Linked DNA regions of Homo sapiens. The protein of the gene in region 2 purifies or fractionates together with the protein of the main gene of each other region. This does not show direct contact. Each region holds a gene or a part of one and is shown on either strand. Other genes may lie near its edges.

What was found.
Region 1: the proteins of FIBP (region 2) and C2CD5 purify together in Homo sapiens (affinity purification with mass spectrometry; 5 studies listed by BioGRID and IntAct, with this or other methods). This does not show direct contact.

The regions. Positions count from the first base shown.
Region 1 is NC_000012.12:22,534,543-22,541,825, forward strand, and holds part of C2CD5 (C2 domain-containing protein 5), read right to left. Parts: intron 803-7,283; coding exon 716-802; intron 1-715. UniProt on the Homo sapiens protein: Required for insulin-stimulated glucose transport and glucose transporter SLC2A4/GLUT4 translocation from intracellular glucose storage vesicle (GSV) to the plasma membrane (PM) in adipocytes.
Region 2 is NC_000011.10:65,885,472-65,893,096, reverse strand, and holds the start of FIBP (acidic fibroblast growth factor intracellular-binding protein), read left to right. Parts: upstream 1-4,625; 5' UTR 4,626-4,678; coding exon 4,679-4,763; intron 4,764-4,964; coding exon 4,965-5,163; intron 5,164-5,370; coding exon 5,371-5,497; intron 5,498-6,674; coding exon 6,675-6,775; intron 6,776-7,433; coding exon 7,434-7,567; coding exon of another isoform or gene 7,568-7,588; intron 7,589-7,625. Other genes in the region: FOSL1 (fos-related antigen 1), read left to right, coding at 1-211; CCDC85B (coiled-coil domain-containing protein 85B), read right to left, coding at 1,705-2,313. UniProt on the Homo sapiens protein: May be involved in mitogenic function of FGF1. May mediate with IER2 FGF-signaling in the establishment of laterality in the embryo.

The DNA of each region.
Region 1 (7,283 bases), on a different chromosome or scaffold from region 2:
AGAAAATAAAATGTGGCATACACATACAATGGGTTATTATTCAGCCATAAGAAGGAATAAAATTCTGATACATGTTACAGTGTGGATGAACCCTGAAAACATTATGCTGAGTAAAAGAAAGCAGATACAACAGGACAAGTATTATATGACTCCATTTATATGAAATATCTAGCATAAGCAAATTCAAAGAGACAGAAAGTAGATTAGAGGTCACCAGAGTCTAGGGAGAGGAGGGAATGGGAAGTTATTGGTTAGTGAGTACACAATTTCCATTTAGGATAAAGAAAAAGTTCTGGAAATAGCGGTGATGGTAGCAAAACACTGTGAATGTAATTAATGCTACCAAACTGTACACTTACAAATGATTTAAATGGCAATATTCACAATATATAGTACTACAATTTTTAAAAATTTATTTTAATCCATATATTATTCTTAAGTAATTTTTGGTATGTGCTAAAATCTAGAGAAAACTACAATAATAATAATATAATACATCTGAAGACTTCTTTTGTTAATGTGTTATCATATACTGTATTTTCTTAAATGTAATACAACTTTTTTTAGACTCAATATTCCTAGGTAAGCAGAAAAGAAAATATTTTTGTGATGTAGAAATACTACTATGCCTGAAATAAAAGGTTCTCATTATTCCTGAGGGAAAAGAGTCACCTCAAAAAAATACACTCAAAAATGCTGACATTTAAAAACTTACCTCAAATTTAAACCACTCCGAGTTCCACTGAGGGTTGAGTGACTTAAGGTACACATCTGTTTTAAAGGTGGTATTACCAAATTTTACCTAAAAACAAATAAGAAATTATTCACATATGAATATCAAAAATGTGAATAAAAGTAAATTTTAATGTCAGCCAACCAATAGAAGGATAAACCATAAAGGGGACAAAAGACTATTATCCTCTGGGACAAAGGGAAGAAGGTACAGATGGATCCAGGTAAGATTGTAGACTAATAATAATACCCACAACAAGCAATCACCCATTGCTCTGCTTGACCAGCTCCACACATCACAAAGAACTAACTTCCTCCGTTTCTAAAGAGCATATAGAGAGCAATAAAAGATCAACAACCCAATAGAAAAAATAGGCAAAGGATATGATCAGGTAAGTCACAGAAATGGAAATACAGCTGTCTTTAACCACATCAAAAGATGATCAACCTCATTCATACTAAGAGAAATGCAAACTAAAATATTTTTACTTATCAGGCTGGCAAAGACCAAAAGATTTGAAAACAGAATTGGTGCGGTACTGTCATGCTTTGCTGGTAGGAGTTGTAGAACAATCTCTACAGAGACTTTGAAAACACATCAAAATTTTAAATGCCTTAAATCCCTTTTAAGCTAGCAATTCTACTTCTTAGAATTTATCCCACAGAGGTACACAATGGCATATATCAGCAGCATTACTGTAGCAAAAGCTTGGAAACAAGTTAAATATCTGTCAATATGGAACTAATTAAATTTATGGTAAAGCAACACAATGTAGCACTAAATAGAATAAAGCAGTTCTCCATGCACTGGTAAGGAACAACTTCCAAGATACATCTTTCTACTGCAGATATATGGCATTCTTCAGCACAAAAAAAAAAAAGACAGAATTCATATAATAGTTATATGTCTGTATATGCGCACATTATTTCTAGAAGTATATACAAGAAATAGTAACAATGGCCACTACAAACAGCAGAAGAGGTTGGTTAAAGGAGAGGCTGTGAAAGAGAAGCTGACTCACTTTGTACCTTTTGAATTTTGAACCATGCATAATACTACCTATTTTAAATGCATTATTTTAAAATTCAAAAACATCAAAAATTAAAATAAAAATGGCAATAACTTTATTTTCATTCAAATTACAGAATCCTAGGTTTGCTACCAGGAATTTAACCTACAGAAGTACTTTCACATAAGCCCTCCCCACCAAAAATATAGTCATTCAGCAGGAAAGTGACTGAACAAATCATGTGCCCTATAAATAATGGAGTCGACTATATGTACTGTCACTAGAAGATATTACACAATAACTGAAAAAACAAGTAGCAGAATATATAAAGTATGATTATATTTGTTTCTAAAAATGTGATATAGATATACAAGTATTTGTTAAGAGGATGAAGAATAGATTAACATAAGCCAAAGAACTGACAGCAATTATCTCTGAAGAAGGGACTGATAGGGTGTAGGAAATAGAGTACAGTGGTGTAAGAAGAAAGTAAGGGGTTTTCGAGTTATATTTGAGTGTTTCAATCTTTTTTAATGGGGAGCATTCAAGTATTACTTGCATAATTTTTTTAATCACAATGATAAAGAAATGAAACTTAATGAGGAAAAAGGAAGAATAGAGGTTCTTGTTTAATTACTAATTTAATTTTCATTCCATTTAAATATTCAAGGCATGATGGAAATACTTATTGTTTAATTTATCTAAAGCTGCTTTATATGAAGTAAAATACTGTTAGGATTTATAAAAACATTCAAAATCATTCAAAAGCAATATACTTAAGGGTTTTGGCTCAACTGCCAAAAGTAGTACATGATTTTTTAAGTGACAAGTTTAGAGCACTCTACAGTTTTGTCCCACTATAACAGTTGTGCTATACTGTGCCTTTTTGTTGTTGTGCAACTGTTCATTCTAAATAAAGATCCGATAGTCCACAAACTGCTTTAAACAAACAAAAAAGACTTTAGAAAAAAGGAAAAGTCATCAGCCAGGCAGGGTGGTGCGTGCCTGGAGTCCCTGCTACTCAAGAAGCTAAGGCAAGAGGAGCTTGAAGCCAGGAGTTCAAGGCTGCTGCATTCAGGCCTGGGCAACAGAGCAAGACCCAGTCTTTCAAACAAGAAAACAAATAAAGGACAAGAAACAAAAAGAAAAAGGCTGGAGTGTGTATTTTGCCAACATTGGATGATTTCCACTCTAGTACAGAAGAATCTCGGTTCACTTAGTCTTAATTTAATTAAAAGGACATTTTATTACTCAGCAATTAAATGAATGCCTTATAACTCTGTTAAAGAACATCAGGGATTTTAATGGAGATTTCCCCCAGTAAAGTAAAGCATTCTCTTTACCTACTCATTAGCTAAATTACCTTGAGAAAGTTATTAACCTGTTATTTAAATTGGCTTCCTCCTCTGAAAAGTGGGATTGTAAGTGAGCATTACATGATATAACACATGTAGAGACCTAGCAAAATGTCTGCACATAGGAAATATTCATTAAATATTTACTTTCCTCTCCCTGTTCCCTCAAAGGTTCCTAGAAAAACACAAGATGACAATGTAGTTTAGCCAAACAATTGGTAACACACATTAACATTCAGATATATTTCCATTAATACTTCGCTTGTACAGAACCCCATCTTACTCTAGAGATTCCTGCAAGACTACTCGTCTTGAAGAATTATTTGGTCTTCACTGGGTCCCTACACTCCTGACGTCATATATAGTGGAAATTCTCTCAATCAATGCAACCAGGACCAATACTTGATCAGTTAATCAAATAACTTGGTTAAATTAGAGGATCACTAAAAATAATACAAACTGTAAACATTTTAAGATAAAACATATAAACAAACATTCATTCCTGTCTTTTAATGTAAGGCTAAGACCTCTTCTTTGTGTAAAAGTCAACTGTTTAGTCATCTTTTTTTGCATAAGCCACATTCATCTCTGATTTCCAGTTTGGGTTGCTTTAAAAAGTACGAACAAAGAATCCTCTATTTTTTACAGTCTTTTCTCCACCTAATTCAAGAGCTATTTTTAGTAACCATTTCCATGTCTTTACATTCACTCATTTATATAAGGTTTAAATAAAATATAGTAAGAAATACAGTTGACATAAGCAGATTTGGGAATAAACACAACTGCCTCTTGGTAAAGTATATCAGCCAACTGATGGGAAACTCCAGACACACTGGAGAGTAGTCTTACCCAGAGGAGTATTTACGAATACGCTTTATGGAAGGATGCAGAACGCTGAGGATTGCAATGAGTCACTTAACGGAGGTTGTTAAGACAGCTTCAACTGTATTGACCTCTCCTCCTAATTTTTGGACTACTCAGTAATCTGTATCCCCCTTTCCTAGCCAGATTTATTTCCCACTTCTATTCAACAAGAATCTTCCTTTCAATCACATATGAATGAAATTCATTCAATTGAAATACATTCAATTACATCAATACATACTCTGTTCTTTTGCTTTTATCAAGTTTGTCCTAGTCACCTGAAAATTTTTTCTTCCTTTTTCTCTCTGCCTTTGTAAATTTTACCATCCTCCAGGCCCAGGATAAAGGTTTCTCATGACAAGCCCACGCTTCATTATCTCCCTCTTCTATGAACTTAAGTCTGTATCAAGCATTTATCCCTTTATTATATTGTAATCCTTCATTATCCCCCTTTTCCTGCATTAATTTTTCCCCTTTCTACTGGATTATTCCTATTAGCACACAAATAGGTTCTGTATCTTTTCATTTATTTTTTAAGTACTAAAACTACTTCTCAAACACCACAGTATTTTTCCTCCCCCCTTCATAGCCATACATCTTGAAACAGTTGCCTATTCATACTCTTTCTACTTCCTCACTTCCCATGTACTTTCTCTTTAAATCACTACAGGATGGGATTCCACCCTCATCATGCCTCTTGTCACAACCCCCATGTTGTCCAATCCAATAATTTTTCTGTCTTCTTACTTGACCTCAGTGACATCTGACAATTGAGCTTCCTTCCTCTTTCTAGAAACTTCCTCTCTTGCCTTCTAAGACATTATGTTCCCCATTTTTCTCCCACCCACTGGCTCACAATCTCAGTTTCCTTCCTCTAGTCCTCCTCTTCTAATAAACCTCTTAATATCAAGTTTTTTCAAGGATTCATCCTGTTTCTCTCCCTTCCCCTAAGTCACAGGTTTGCAAAAAAGACAGAACCAACTCCTAAAGCTTTGCAAAAAAGACAGAACCAACTCCAACTCCTAAAGAAGCTTTAGACATTTCTAGCAGTGGTTTTGGGGAAAATAGTAATTGCATTAAGTGAGGAAGGGCCAGAGATGCCAGGTATTCTTCAATGCAAGAGAGTTCCCAACAATGAAGACTTTTACCATGTCATGATTTTCAAATGTGCCACTAGATAATCACATGGGTAAGAAACCTACCTAGAAGACCAGGTGTGGTGGCTCATGCCTGTAATCCCCGCACTTTGGGAGGCCAATGTGGGTGGATCACCTGAGGTCAGGTGTTCAAGACCAGTCTGGGCAACATGGTGAAACCCTGTCTCTACAAAAATACAAAAAATTAGCCAGGCATGGTGGTGCACTGGTAGTCCCAGCTACTCAGGAGGCTGAGGCAGGAGAATCGCTTGAACCTGAGAGGCAGAGTTTACAGTGAGCTGAGATCACGCCATTGCACTCCAACCTGGGCAACAAGAGCGAAGCTCCGTCTCAAAAAAAAAAAAAAAAAAGAGAAAAAAAACCCTACCTAGAACCTCAGTTTTACAGATAGAAGTATTACAATCGGGTTTCAATGTACATAATTGTCAAGAACTACAACCATCATGTAAATCAAGAGGCAACTCTGCTTTTTCCCATGAGTTGACTATTTTGAAAAATCAGATAACCAATGGCAATGAAGATCTGAGATGCCAAAACTACACAACTGTCTCACTCTGTTTGAGAAGCAGTCACATTCACGTGGTTTTAACATAGGCGAGGCACTCCCTATTCTGTGTCCCAGCTTTATTTTCTCCATATATTATTCTTAAGTAATTTTTGGTATATGCTAAAATCTAGAGAAAACTAGACCATCCAGCATACTGTATCTTTTACTTACTTACCTTATTTATGAACTCTCTCCTCCCACTAAAATGTAAGTTCCGTGAATGAAGTTTTTTTAAATTTATTGCTATATCCCCAGCATCCAGTACAGTGTCTAATACATACAAAGGCTGAATTCATTGATTCATCTGATTACTTCATGTTTTCTATTATGGTCATGAAAAAGTACTTCCATATTAAAATAATAACAACAGGCCAGGCGCGGTGGCTCACATCTGTAATCCCAGCACTTTGGGAGACCAAGGCAGGTGGATCACCTGAGGTCAGGAGTTCAAGACCAGCCTGGCCAACATGGCGAAACCCCGTCGCTACTAAAAATACAAAAATTAGCTGGGCGCGGAGGCAAGCACCTGTAATCCCAGCTACTCTGGAGGCTGAGGCAGGACAATCGCTTGAACCCAGGTGACGGAAGTTGCAGTGAGCCAAGATCGTGCCACTACACTCCAGCCTGGGTGAAAGAGCAAGACTCTATCTCAAAAAAATAATAATGATAACAACAAAAACAAATACTTCTATTTGTTATAGTTAAACCGTGGTACTGATTTTTTAATTGTAAGGATATATTAACTAAAAAATATCATGCCAGGATAGAAAGGGTAGATTCCAAAATACCAGCTATCTAAAGGGAGTCCTGGGTCTCACAGTTGAGAAACACTGGCTTGTGTGCTCATTTTTAACTCAGACCTCTTTTTTTTGAATGCCATAGTCATAAATCACTTCCTTAACATCTCCAATTAAAGACCCTAAAGACATCACAAACCTAACATGCTCAAATGGAAAATGATCCTCCTCAATCTTTACCATCCCCCTGGAGTATCAGAAAACCCAATACTTCAGAAAGCTAGGAGTCATCTTTTAATCTATCTTCAAAATATACCTGGAATTCATCCACTTGTCCGCATTACCAAATCCATCACCTTGGATAACATTACCTGTTATTTGAACTATTATAGAATCTCCTAACTGCCTGATTTCTACTCTTTCCCCTTCAATCCATTCTCCATATAACAGTGCTCATCTTAACAAGGGCTTCTCAATGAATTTAGGGTAAAATTCAAACTCTTAATCATGGCCTTAGTCCTTGCAAGACTGGTTCTTTGATTAACTCTCCAACTTTATCTTATACTACTCTTCCCTTCACTGACTACGTGCCAGCCACACGCATTTTCCTTCACTTCTTAAAACACACCAAATCTCTACATGAGATCTCCGGGTTACCTTCTGTCCACCCACTCCCCTACACACACAAATATGCTCCCTCAGCAGCAGGCTCCTTCTCATCCAGCAGATCTTGGTTTTGACAAACACTTTTCTCAGGGGCCTCCCCTGATTACTCAACCTAAAGTAGGTGTTCCCTGTTGTTCTCTTTCTATTGTTCCCTTTCATGGCACCCATCCCAACTTGTAACTATATATTTAATAATTTATTTACCTTTTAAACAT
Region 2 (7,625 bases):
CTCCCTTTCCCCAGGGCCTGTGCTTGAACCTGAGGCACTGCACACCCCCACACTCATGACCACACCCTCCCTAACTCCTTTCACCCCCAGCCTGGTCTTCACCTACCCCAGCACTCCTGAGCCTTGTGCCTCAGCTCATCGCAAGAGTAGCAGCAGCAGCGGAGACCCATCCTCTGACCCCCTTGGCTCTCCAACCCTCCTCGCTTTGTGAGGCGCCTGAGCCCTACTCCCTGCAGATGCCACCCTAGCCAATGTCTCCTCCCCTTCCCCCACCGGTCCAGCTGGCCTGGACAGTATCCCACATCCAACTCCAGCAACTTCTTCTCCATCCCTCTAATGAGACTGACCATATTGTGCTTCACAGTAGAGCCAGCTTGGGGCCACCAAAGCTGCCCACTGTTTCTCTTGAGCTGGCCTCTCTAGCACAATTTGCACTAAATCAGAGACAAAATATTTCCCATTTGTGCCAGAGGAATCCTGGCAGCCCAGAGACTTTGTAGATCCTTAGAGGTCCTCTGGAGCCCTAACCCCTTCCAGATCACTGCCACACTCTCCATCACCCTCTTCCTGTGATCCACCCAACCCTATCTCCTGACAGAAGGTGCCACTTTACCCACCTAGAACACTAACTCACCAGCCCCACTGCCAGCAGCAGCAGGTGATTGGACCAGGCCATTCTGCCGCCCCCTCCTGAACCGCACAGCTCAGGAGGCGCCCTTGGCTTCTGTGATGAGCTGATCTGCGGATCTCAGCTTTGAGAAGCCTTCAGCTCCAGGGAATCCAAGCCTCCACAGCGAGGGCAGCTGCTATTTATTTTCCTAAAGAGAGTATTTTTATACAAACCTACCAAAATGGAATAAAAGGCTTGAAGCTGTGGCCTGAGTGCCTCACTGGACCCAGAGGCCAATGGGAGAGTATTTGGAGCCCTAGGTCCCAGCCTTAGCTCTACAGACTCACTGCATGACCTTGGACAAATTCTTTGATATTTTTGGACTTTGTCTTATCTGACAAGTGGGGCTACATCCGCTCGGCCTCATCTCCGGGACTGAGGGGAGACAGTCCTCTGGGGTAAAAGCGAAGAGGCTTACCGCCCCTCTCCCCGTGGGGGCCCACAGTGCTGCTGCGTGTGCCACGGAGGGGCGCTGTTATGCCCCCTTCCAGCCTCAGAGGAGGCGGCCGAGTGGTTCTAGGCCCCCAGCACCTGCTTCCTGCCCCATTGTCTTGGACAGGAAGGAGCCGGGAAGGGAGCTGGAGCCACTTCAGGGGCTGGATTAAGGCCGGTCCCGGCGCCCGATGGGGGAAGTCTGGTTTACCACTGCCCCGCATCCCACCCCAGGCTCGAAGTAATGGGGGAATCATTAGTTCTGCAGTCCTTCTGGATGGGAATTGTACCCTGTATCAGCACCCCACCCTCGCCCCAACCCCGGCGAGTACCAAACAGACGCTGCCCAGGCCGTGGGCTCCGCTTCCGTCCGGGTTTATTACCCCCAATCCAACCCCCAGCAAGTCCCTCCGCTCCAGCCTTCAGTCCCCCTGCTGCCCTGCCAGCAAGAGCGAGGGGCCCTTCTTGGTGTCAGGATTTCTTAGTCCATGCCAGCGGCCCCTCCTGCGCAGCCAGGACGGCGTCCAGGTCCCGAGGTCCACAGCGGTCCCGGGGCTCGGGGAGCAATCCGGGCGGGCGTCGGCGTGGAGGAAGCAGTGCCTTCAATCATCGGGGGAACAGGCCAGGGGCAACTGATCCGGACTGCCCACGCTGCCAGTGCTGGAGCTTCCATCGCCTAGGTCGCGGGGCCCGCACGGGGGCAAGGCAAGCTCGGGTGCTGGCCCGGCTCCTGATCCCCCGGCGCCGCTGGGGCCGCCGCGGGGGCCCCATTCTTCGCCCAGCGCCAGGCAGAGCTCCTTAAGCGCTAGGTTCTCCCGCAGCAGCTCCTCCTGGCGGCCCTCCAGCTCGGCCAGCTTCTGCCAACAGCCGCCCAGGTCCTCGCGCACGGCCCGGGATGCTTGGGTCCCGAAGAGCTGCCACTGGCGTGCGGCGCGCCGCCCGCGCTGGCGCTCCGAGTCCAGGAAGCAGCAGAGGTCGCGCAGCTCACGGTTCTCTGCCTGCAGACGCCGGTTGAGCTGCTTGAGCTCGCGGATCTCGCCCAGGTGGCCCTGCAGCTGCCGATTCACCTCCTGCATGAGGCGGCCGCGCTGCACCAGTGCCGCCAGGCGCGCCGCCTCCTCCCGCCGCAGGCGCCGCACTAGCTCTTCCTTGCCTAGCGCCGCCATCTCCTCGTCCGTCAGCTCCTCCAGGCCGCCTGCCTCGGCCTCCATGGCTGGTCAGGCCTCTGGAGCATCGCCCGCCCGCCGCCGCGGCCCAGGAGCCCCACGTCGGGCCCGGCGCCACTCAGGCTCGGGCTCCGGCTCCGCACGCGGCAGGCAGTGGCCGAGGCAGCGTAGGCTGCAGCAGCTACCCGGGCTGGGCACGCGGCGGGGCGCGCGCCGGGGCGGGGCCGCATGTCGTTATGGAAGGACAGCCAATCCGGTGAAACGTCCCCGGAAAGGGGCGGGGCCTGAGCTCAGGGGCCGCCCCCCTCGTTCCCCACCCACTCCGGGTGTTACTGATCCTCGATGTCAAGGAACCCGCGCGTCATCGCCCTCCACATCGGTCTCAACCCGAAACTAGGAGCTTCGAACCTCCAAGTACCGGATCGCCCCAAGCTTGAGCCTAGGCCTCTCGGCTCTTCTGAGAAACAAGATTCAGGCGTCCGCCCCTGACTCCTGCCCATCCCCCACAGAAGTCAGATGGACCGCTCTCCAGTCCCTCTTTACCTTTGATCAAATTCGGAAGTCTCGGCCCACTAAGGATCGCTCCTGGTTCCTCGGAACCCTGAGTCCAAACGTCCTAGCTCACCAATAGACTACCCTCCCTCCCAGGGAGCGTTTCCTGCCTGGGGGGAGGAACATACAGGATTCGTTTGTTCAATAAACGTTTTTTATGTGCAAGGCCCATGCAGAAATAAATTTAACCAAAATACCGATTCCATCCTCAAGGAGGTCGCAGTCTGTCCGGGAAGTCAAGCTGTGTTAAGCAAGAAATAAATCCGGGAGGAGTATGGTCTGAGGGTCCTTAAGAGGGTTCCCAAAAGAGATGCTATCCAAGAGGCTCTGGTAGATCCATAGGACTTTGCCAAGTAAAGAGCTATTTCAGGGAGAGAGAATAACATAGTGAAAGACACTGGTGCCCGAAAGAGCCTAGCTGCTTTAGGAACAATGAGGATAGCTTGGTTTTTGAAAAGCAGATGTGTCGAGAAAATGCTAAGAGAGAGAGAGCGAGGCTTCAAAGGTAGGTAAAAGCCAGATTCTTAAGAACTTCCAGTACCAGGTTGGAGCATTTCCAAAGGCCACTAAGGATGTTAAGCAAGAGAGTAACATTTGTAAGGATGTTAAGCAAGGGAGTAACATTTTAAAATATGCCTTTAACTGGCCAAGATGGTGAAACCCCGTTTCTACTAAAAATACAAAAATTAGCCGGGCGTGGTGGGAGGAGCCTGTAATCTCAGCTACTCGGGAGGCTGAGGCAGAGAACTGCTTGAACCCGGGAGGCGGAGGTTGCAGTGAGCCGAGATCGCGCCACTGCACTCCAGCCTGGGCGACAGAGCGAGACGCTGTCTCGAAAAAAAAAATGTATTTAAAAAGATTGGGCTGATCTGTGTGGGCCGGACCCTGCGGGGAGGGGACATAAACAGGGAGATTAGTAACGGTGTCAAAGAGCAAGAGCAAGGAGAGCTAAGCAGAAAGACGGCTGGGGCAGCATCAGTGGGGGTGGAGAGGACAAACAGATACTAGAAATATTCGGGAGGCAAATCAGCCGAACTGAATGTGGGGAGAGAGGAGTCTGGAAGAACGCCCAGGTTTCTCGTATGAGAACTGGTGGATGTTAGGGCTGTCACTGAGATAGGGACGCAGGAAAGAAACAAATGGGGAGAGGCAGAGGTCTGTCTAGAATATGTTGAGCTTTTGAGGGGCTTACGGGAAGAGTGTGGATAGACTTGGCCGATAGGCGGCCCCTCCGGATGTGGACTTCCAGGCAGAGCTCGGAGGGGCAGAATTAGAGACGTCAGTAGCTCGTGGGGCTGGGGGTGGGATTAAAACCAAGGTGGGAGCAGGTGCCCCAAACCCAGGAGAGGTGCTCATGCGCAGGATGGACAAACCAGTCTCCAGCAAGAGCCCGAGGAAGTCGGGTCATACCCCATTTTTGCGGAGATTTAGGATAGAGCCCTGTGAAACCCCTAAGTTTAGGATACAGGTCAAACTTAGGAGGTCCCGAAGAGGGCAGAGAAGGTGGGAGAAAAGCCAGGAGGAAGTGAGGGGAGAAGTTACGGGGACCGAGGAGACGAAGAGGAGGCACTCCCTTCGTGCTCCTGCAGACGGCCGGGGAGGGAGACAGGACGCAGGAGCCCGGGACTCCCCCTCCCGGCGGGAGGAAGCGGTGCTCCTCCGCGCAGGCCTCCCCCTCTCTTCCCTCGCCGCTCCCGCCCCGTCCCCTCCCCGACTGGCTGTGTCCCGGAAGTGGTCATAAGCTGGGTCCCGATGCCGCGAGCGGAATCTCGGCGCTCCCGGAAGTGGCCTGAAGGCGGCGCGCCAGTCCCGAGCAGTGCTCGCTCCTGCTCGGGGCGCTGCGGCCCCGGGCGTCGCCATGACCAGTGAGCTGGACATCTTCGTGGGGAACACGACCCTTATCGACGAGGACGTGTATCGCCTCTGGCTCGATGGTTACTCGGGTCCGTGAGGGGCGTGTGGGGAAGCCAGTCGGCGGAGCGGTTGTGTTGAATGGGAGAGGGGGCGGGGCTAAGACTTGGGCATCCTTTAGGGAAGTGGGCGAGCGCCTGGGAATAAGAGGTGTTATAGGGGTCTGGGATGGAAACCCTTAAGGGCCTCTGGCGTCGGCGGGGCGGGGCCTGATGCTAGCGTCCGCTTTCCAGTGACCGACGCGGTGGCCCTGCGGGTGCGCTCGGGAATCCTGGAGCAGACTGGCGCCACGGCAGCGGTGCTGCAGAGCGACACCATGGACCATTACCGCACCTTCCACATGCTCGAGCGGCTGCTGCATGCGCCGCCCAAGCTACTGCACCAGCTCATCTTCCAGATTCCGCCCTCCCGGCAGGCACTACTCATCGAGAGGTGCTCACCCTCTGGGATGGTGGAGACATCAACCAGTCTGACTGTATACCCATTTTGCCGGCTGAAACAGGCCCAGGGAGGGATGGGATTTACCCAGCCATCAGAAAGTTGAGAGTGGAAGGGGTCAGACCTAGGCCCTGCTAGGCCCCGCCAGACTCCCTTTCCTGTCTTTTATGGAGGGTCAATGGTGTTCTCTGACTCCACAAGGTACTATGCCTTTGATGAGGCCTTTGTTCGGGAGGTGCTGGGCAAGAAGCTGTCCAAAGGCACCAAGAAAGACCTGGATGACATCAGCACCAAAACAGGCATCACCCTCAAGAGCTGCCGGAGACAGGTATGCACTGCATCCACACGGACACAGCATCCCATCTACACTTCACTCCCTCCCTTTGGCCACTGGCCCAGTTCCAGCCTCTGATTGTGGCAGCAGCTTCATACCTAGTCTTCTCCTCCCTTCCCCTTTCCCCTCCTTTTTTTTTTTTTTTTTCGAGATGGAGTCTTGCTCTGTGGCCCAAGCTGGAGTGCAGTGGCGCGACCTCAGCTCACTGCAACCTCCGCCTCCTGGGTTCAGGTAATTCTTGTGCCTCAGCCTCTGCAGTAGCTGAGATTACAGGCGCCCGCTCCCACACCCAGCTAATTTTTGTATTGTTAGTAGAGACAGGGTTTCACCATGTTGGCCAGGCTTGTCTTGAACTCCTGGCCTCAAGTGATCATCCGCCTCGGCCTCCCAAAGTGCTGACATTACAGGCGTGAGCCACCGTGCCTGGCTCCCTGTTGTGCCTTCCAAGCTATCCTGTACTGTATGGCCAGAGTGACCTTTCAGAATGACCTGAAATTTTATCAGACCCCTGATAAACTTTCATTGGCTCCCACTGCCTCCTGGGTAGCAGCTGCACTCCTTGGCTTTGACCTATGGACTGTCCTGTTATCTCATCCCTGCAGACCTCTCTAGGCTTACATTTCTCCAGCCCCAGGCTTTCCTTTACTCATGTTGCTTCTACCTGGAGGGTACTGTTCTTGGCAATATCTACCCCTTGAAATCCAAGACAAGAGGTGAGATGCCACCTTCTCCACAAGCCTTTTTGGTACGCCAGGAAGAAGTAACCCTTCTGGGTCTTTGATGCCTTTCTTTTGTATCTCCTGTGAGCTTTCTGTTTATAGCTTAGCATTTGTTTTTTATTTTTTAGTTTCTAGGGCTTAGCCAGGAAAGTCTCTTCCAACTCAAACTTGTGAAGATCTGGAGAGCATGGTGCTAAAATGGGGTTGGATTTAGAGATAAGATTGAGTAAACATTTATCCAAGGCAAGATACAGCAGGAGTTGCTAAGCATTTGATTTGATAACAAGTACTAATAACTAATAGTTGGTTGAAGGAATAACAAATGCTAAATCAGCATCTGCTGACTGGATAGGTGGATGGGGAAGGGAGAGATGTTCAATAAGTGGTTTATTGGGTGAGCGACACAGTGTACACTCTGACCAGTCCTCTCTTCTACCCTAACTGCCCTGCAGTTTGACAACTTTAAACGGGTCTTCAAGGTGGTAGAGGAAATGCGGGGCTCCCTGGTGGACAATATTCAGCAACACTTCCTCCTCTCTGACCGGTTGGCCAGGTGAGGAGCTAGCCACCTCCCCATCCCGCACACTACTTCCTGGGCCCGGAGGCTCGTCCACCTTCCCTACCCCAAACCTTCTGACCTCCTGAGTATGCTGGGGGAATGATTATCCCACTTTTGGTCTGTACTTTTTTTTTTTTTTTTTTTTTAATGAGACGGAGTTTCACTCTTGTTGCCCAGGCTGGAATGCAATGGTGCAATCTTGGCTCACTGCAACCTCTGCCTCCTGGTTCAAGCAATTCTGCCTCAGCCTCCCGAGTAGCTGGGATTACAGGCTTGAGCCACCGCACCCAGCTTGGTCTGTACTTTGGACCAGACTGACCTGGATTCAAAGCACAGTCCAGCGATTTCCAGCTGGGCTGTTGAGAGGTACCATATGTAAAGCCCATGGCACAGCCCTGGCACTTAGGAAGTGCTCAGTAGATAGTAACTGTTACCCTTATGGTCTCCCACTGTATCCACTAGTAAACTTGAGCTGGAACCTTCTCTTCGCACAGATGGGGAAGGGTCATAGAGAAGTGACTTGAGACACGTCACACAGTGACTTGAGGCAGAGAGAGGCCAGAACTCGGACACCCAGCTGAGGTTGCAGGTGGGAGCTGCTTCCTAAGAAGGAATTTCAAGCCCTAAGAGGACCCTCCTCTCGTCTGTGCAGGGACTATGCAGCCATCGTCTTCTTTGCTAACAACCGCTTTGAGACAGGGAAGAAAAAACTGCAGTATCTGAGCTTCGGTGACTTTGCCTTCTGCGCTGAGCTCATGATCCAAAACTGGACCCTTGGAGCCGTCGGTGAGGCCCCCACTGACCCAGGTGCCTGGACGCCTCCCCATCCTCAGGACCTGATTCC